Linked DNA regions of Homo sapiens: region 2 is linked to region 1. The links come from fine-mapping of genetic effects on plasma protein levels. Region 1 holds a variant in brackets. A gene starts in the other region. All regions are shown on their reverse strands. Region 1 overlaps NFILZ (NFIL3 like basic leucine zipper). Region 2 holds the start of CSF2 (colony stimulating factor 2).

The links. PIP is the chance, under the fine-mapping model, that this variant and not a neighbour inherited with it causes the effect. Protein levels are from antibody-based Olink assays in UK Biobank. Linkage for the fine-mapping came from a reference panel and not from the study's own genotypes, which makes the PIPs less certain.
Region 2: CSF2 starts here. The variant in region 1 is fine-mapped to the plasma level of the CSF2 protein (UK Biobank, PIP 0.94).

The regions. Positions count from the first base shown.
Region 1 is chr19:8,675,556-8,678,464 of GRCh38, reverse strand. It overlaps NFILZ (NFIL3 like basic leucine zipper), which reads right to left. Exons shown (of 6, transcript NM_001378600.1): 5 at 2,009-2,106; 6 at 1-1,714. The coding sequence starts at 1,699. The coding sequence ends at 830. Among named protein-coding and RNA genes, the nearest start is that of ACTL9, 22 kb to the left of the region's middle. The variant G/A (reference allele first, on the strand shown) is at 1,387.
Region 2 is chr5:132,071,824-132,074,732 of GRCh38, reverse strand. It overlaps CSF2 (colony stimulating factor 2), which reads right to left and starts at 944. Exons shown (of 4, transcript NM_000758.4): 1 at 751-944; 2 at 611-652. The coding sequence starts at 909.

The sequences.
Region 1 (2,909 bases):
GATGGATAGGTGAGGATGGGTGGATGAGTGGATGAGGATGGATGGATGCATGCATAGATAGGTGGATGGGTGGATGAATGAATGGATGGATGGATAGATAGAAGGAAAAACAAATGCATGGATGAATGAGAATGGATGGCTAGATAGAAAGAAGGAAGAACAAATGCATGGATGAATGAGAATAGATGCATGGATAAATGGAGGATGGATAAATGGACAGATGGATGGCTGAATGGATGGACGGATGGATGAATGGATGGATGGATAGATGGACGGATGGATGGATGGATGGATGGATGGATGGATGGATGGACGGACAAGTGGATGAATGGATGGAGGGATGGATGGATGGATGGATGGATGGATGGATGGAATGGATGGATGGATTGATGGATGGATGAATAGATGGGTGGATGGATGGATGGATGGATGGATAGATGGATAAGGATGGAGGGACTAATGGATGGATGGATAAGGATTGATGAATGAATGAATGGATGAATAAATGAGGATGAATGGATGAATGGATGGCTATAGGGAAGAATAGATAAATGGAAAGGAGGAAGGAAGAGGGAAAAGTGACAACCCAAAGCATAGATTTTAAGGCAAGGCAAGAGCCATGGTAGAATCCAAGATGGGCTCCCATCCACTCCACCCCTAGGAGGTCTGGTATGGAAGCTGTGAAGTGGACCTTCCAAGCCAGGGCACCCCTACTTCCTACAGGCCTTCCCAGATTGCTGATCAAGACCAAGCTACTCATCCCTCAGACAAACCTATATTCCGCCCCCAAACACCCCCTTGCAAGCCTAGCCCTTCCCAGAGGAAGCCCTCAGAGGGGCGCCTGACCACCCTCCCAGCCACGAGGTACCCTGCCTGAGGCTCGGGACTTGATGCGCAGTTTGTGGGGCAGAGAGGGCTGACCCAGACCCTCAGGACTGTTCCCTGGGGCAGGGCAGGTCACCCCAGGAGACAGACCCATGGGATCAGCAGTGGGTGTCAGCAACACATCTGATGGCCCTGAAGCCCGGCATCCAGAGGGCACTGGTGACCACAGCCCCCAGCAGGGTCTGAGCTCTGGTCTGGACCCTACATGCCCCTCCAAGAGGTGACAGCTGAAGAGGGCAGGTGGGAGGGCAGTCTGCAAGGCCATGTCAATTCTGTTGAGGGTAGGAGATGCAGACTCTTGGGGGGACCTAGGAGAAGTGGCCAAGCCAGTCCATCTGGGAGCCAGCAGGCAGCCCCGACATCCTGGAATCCCAGCATCCAGGGAACGTGGCCTTAAGAGGCAGCTGTGAGAGCCAGACAAGGATGAGAGTGCTTCAGCCCCAGGCCGGGGGTCCCCAGTCCAGGGGGCTTCCAATAGCAGAGCCTGCAGGGGCAAGGCCC[G/A]GGGCCCACCAGTCAGGGGCAGGAGGCCAAAGCGAAGCTTGAGCGCCTTCAGCTCACCCTTGAGCAGGGCATTCTCCTCCATCAGTGCAGCCAGCCTGCCCTCAATGGCTGCATCATTGAGACGTCGCTTTTCCCTGGATCTCTTGGCTGCTTCATTGTTCTTCCTCCGCTTCTCCCAGTAAACTGTGTCCTTCTTTTCTTCTGGCATGAACTCCCGCTGGCGACGTATGGAGGGGCCCCTGCCCCGAGCCCCCCACAAGGTCTTGCTATGACTCTGAGACACATCTGGCAGGCCCGAGAAACCCACATCCATAGCTGCTTGGAGAACCTGGGAAAAAGGAAAGAGTTCTTGGAGTAATGGCAAAGGGTGGACCTGGATGACCCCTTTCTCTAATTTATCCTTTGTCTCCACCATCACCCATGGAGGGGACAGGTGGAGTTGGAACTGAGCTGGAGACCAAGGTTCGATCTTCATCTGTTTGATGCCCAGTGAAGATTGGGTGAGGCCACAAAACAAGAAACTGCTAGAAAGGCTTAAGAGCAGACCACCGTCATCATGAAGAGCTGGTTCAACCCTGTACCCTCAGAAGGACACATGCTCTTCCAGGGGTGTTCTCCTTACTGTTGAGAAGGTCAGCAGACAAGCCCAGGGCTCAGTTCAATTGGAGTTCCAAGGTAAGATTCTTGGAAACCCAGAGGGAGACAGAAGGATGACTGAACCTAGAAATAGAGAATATGTATCCATGGAGGTAAACAGAGCCAATTTGGGATCAGAAAATAAGCTGCTATTCACCTAAACTGTGCCCAGATTGTACCCCAAGATCGCTTCAGTTTGTGGCCAGAATTTTTTACCTGCCCTTCCATCCATCCAACTACCCACCCATTCATCGGGTAATCCAATCACTCACCCATTCACTCAACTGTCCATTTGTCCATCCCTCTACCCAACTCACCATCTATCCATTTATCCATTCATTCACTCACTCACCATCCATTCACTCAAACCCATCTCCCCATTTCATTGTGCAACTCTCCATCACATCTACCACTTACTCACTCATCCATTCATCCAACCGTCCATTGATTCACTGAGAGATTCATTTTTTTTAAATCACATTGTGCCTTTACTAGGCATCTTTTCATCCATATATTCATTTGCTGATCTCAACCATCCACCATCTATTCCTCCATTCTTTCATTCATCCAAATGTCCCTCCTATGTGTCAGTCACTCTTCTACAAATCCATTCATTCATCTATATATTCATCCATGGGTCCATCCATTCATCCAACCAACAAAAAAGCAATTTTTTTAGAGGCATGGTCTGACTGTCACCCAAGCTGGAGTGCATTGATGGGATCATAGTTCACTGCAGCCTTGAACTGTTGGGCTCAGGCAATCATCATGCCTCAGCTTCCCAAGTAGCTGGGACTACACTTGTATGCCATTATGCTCAGCTATTTTTAAATTTTCTGTAGGAACATGGTCTCACTTTGTTGCCCAGGTTTGAAAACAAAACACAA
Region 2 (2,909 bases), not on the chromosome of region 1:
GCTGCTGCCCCCAGCCCCCAGGAGTAGGGCTTGGGAGGGGCACAGGCTGGGTCCAGTCATAGACCCTGCCCTGTCCATGGCAGGCACGAACCTGCCCTTCTCACTGCCCCGCCCAGGCCACCCTCAGCGGCACCTGGAGAGGAGCCCAGCCTTAGGGAAGGAGGTGACTCTCACCCCATCATTCAGGGAGAGGGGGGTGGGGCCTCACCTGGACCTGCTGGGTGGGCAAGGGTTGTTCCTGAAACCCCTCTGTGCCTCTCTGTAGTCAGCACTGTCTCAACAGGACTTGGTCTCGGGGCACAGTGAGCGCCCCAAACCCACAGCTCCTGTCTCATGAAGTGACCCCCACTTTACCACCTGTCCCCTGGTGACTCCTGGCCATTGAATGCTAGGTCTGCCCATGGCCGCTCAGCTGATAAAGGAGCTCATGTGACTGCCATAGGGGCACGGCCAGCAGCCTCTTGAGCACCCAGTTGCTACCCCCTCCTCCTGCAGCCAGCTGACTGGAGAGAAAGTGGACAACCCTGTGTGGTGCCATCTAAAATGGAGTCCCCACCTCCACCCCAGGGCAGGGGCTTCTGGAAAGCTATGTCAGAGAGAAGCATCTTACCTGGAGGTCAAACATTTCTGAGATGACTTCTACTGTTTCATTCTGTAGAAAAGGAAAATGTCATGTTATCAAGCTGACAGGCGTGGCCAGTCAGGGGCCAGCTGGGTGGCCTAGGCACAGGCCCACATTCTCTCACTTACCATCTCAGCAGCAGTGTCTCTACTCAGGTTCAGGAGACGCCGGGCCTCCTGGATGGCATTCACATGCTCCCAGGGCTGCGTGCTGGGGCTGGGCGAGCGGGCGGGTGCAGAGATGCTGCAGGCCACAGTGCCCAAGAGCAGCAGGCTCTGCAGCCACATCCTCCAGAGAACTTTAGCCTTTCTCTCTGTGTACTGGGCTCACTGGCAAAAGAGCTCTTAAATACACAGAGGAAATGATTAATGGTGACCACAAAATGCCAGGGAGGCGGGGGAACTACCTGAACTGTGGAATCTCCTGGCCCTTATCAGCCACACATGGGAACGGTGAGCCTTTTCCCTAGGTGGTCAGGCTTGGGGGTTTTCATTAATGAACCTTTCCAAGAACCGACAGCCCACCCACCCGCCTTCCTGAGGGCTCTCCAGCCCTCCCTGGGCAGTCTGAATGGGCCTGAGGCTGCCCCCTCCCTCTGAGGGGCACAGTTTGGACTTCCTGGCCTGGAATGGCTGGGGTGGGGCGTGGGAGACACTTAGATAGGGCTCCCCATCCTGCCTGTAATCCCAGGGGCCTTTGGGCAGGCTATGCCCGCCCTGGTGCCTCATTCTGACTCCAGCCTTCCTCTTCTCTGGCCACTGTGAGAGACTTGAGTGTGAGGGGAGCTCTCACAGACCTGCCCCACTGACAGTTCACATGGGCTCCCACCCAGGACCTGGAGCAGGGGGCAACCTCAGTCCAGTAAGGGGGGACCCCTGCCCCTGTGAGCAGAGGGAATGACCACCATGTGCACATCCAGCAGCGAGACTGCAGCCACTCTCAGCAAGCTTCAGAGGGGGTGTGGCTGGGTCAAGTCGGGACCCAGAGTCTGACTCTTGGCTCTGGAGCCACCTTCCTGAGTGACTCCCCTCTCTGGTTATGTGAACCTTGATTCCCTCTGCAGAGCAGGTTTGCCCCTCTGAGGTTCGGACTACACTCCTATATGTAGCCCCCAGAAGACACCAGGAGCTTCAGGCTGGCTCCAGGGCTGTGGCTGCATCCATCTCAGGTACAGGGACAATGGCTTCCCCAGCAAGGCCCTCCAGGCTTAATTTCCTACATAACCCCAGCATCCCCCAACTCCAGAGGCCTTTCTGTGGAAGTGTGGAAGTAGGAAATCTAAAGGCTCTTGAGGGGCTGACAAGTGTTTGATTTTCACAATGGAGTTCAGAGAAGACAGCACGAGTTTGTGTTTGCACAAGGTATCTGGCTCAAGCTGCCCCATGCCTGGGTTTCATAGCTAAAGGGGTGTGGGCCCACACGTGCCCATTTCTGGGTGTATGTGTGCTGCTGTGATTGGTTGTACATACAGGTGCCTGGTAGAGGGGAGGATGTTTTCCATGCAGATGCATCTATTGAGTCCTCTTACCTGCTTTATGAAAGGCTCCAGGCCTCTGAAGGTGACTCTGATACTGGAGAAGCTCCCTACTCCAGGTGCAGTGCCTCTGGGCCCTAGAGGCTGATTCAGCCTAAACCAGTGGGGTTGGACACAAGCGAGAACATTCTGCTGGACTCAGGTTGGCGAGCCTTCAGAGAGCAGGTGGAGTTCATGGCTTTAGCACTGTGGTCTGAGTCTGCAGCCCTGGCCAGTTTCCCTGTACTGTGGGAGTTTTTCTGACCTTGCATAGAGAAACCAAACCTTAGTCCTCCAGACCCCACTGTGAGGCCAGCCCCATCCATCTGAGCCTGCGTAGAACACTCCTAGTGGCCAGGCTGGGGTGGGAACATGAAATGTCCAGGCCCTGGCCCTTTCTCCACCTTTTTTGCAAGGCCTTGGCTCAGCTCTTTCCAGGGAGCTCTCGGGGGAGAGATGAGGACATGGATACTACATGTAGATATCACATGTGTTGGATAGCACCCTGGAGGCTGGAGGGCAGGGAAGGGAGCCATAGATAGTGGTTCAGCTGATGGCCAGGGAGGCAGAGAGCCTGTATGACCCATCTGGGAGAGAAGGTCACTTTCCTCCTAGAAATGAGTTGTCATAGCTCAGACAGTCAGTCAACAAGTCTTTCCAATCCACACCAGGACCTGTTCTGGGGAGGTAAACGGGACCCTCCCACTGGCCCTCACATTTGGCCCTTGAGGCTCCCAGTCTGGTAGGAAACAGACTGCAATGGACCCTCCCATG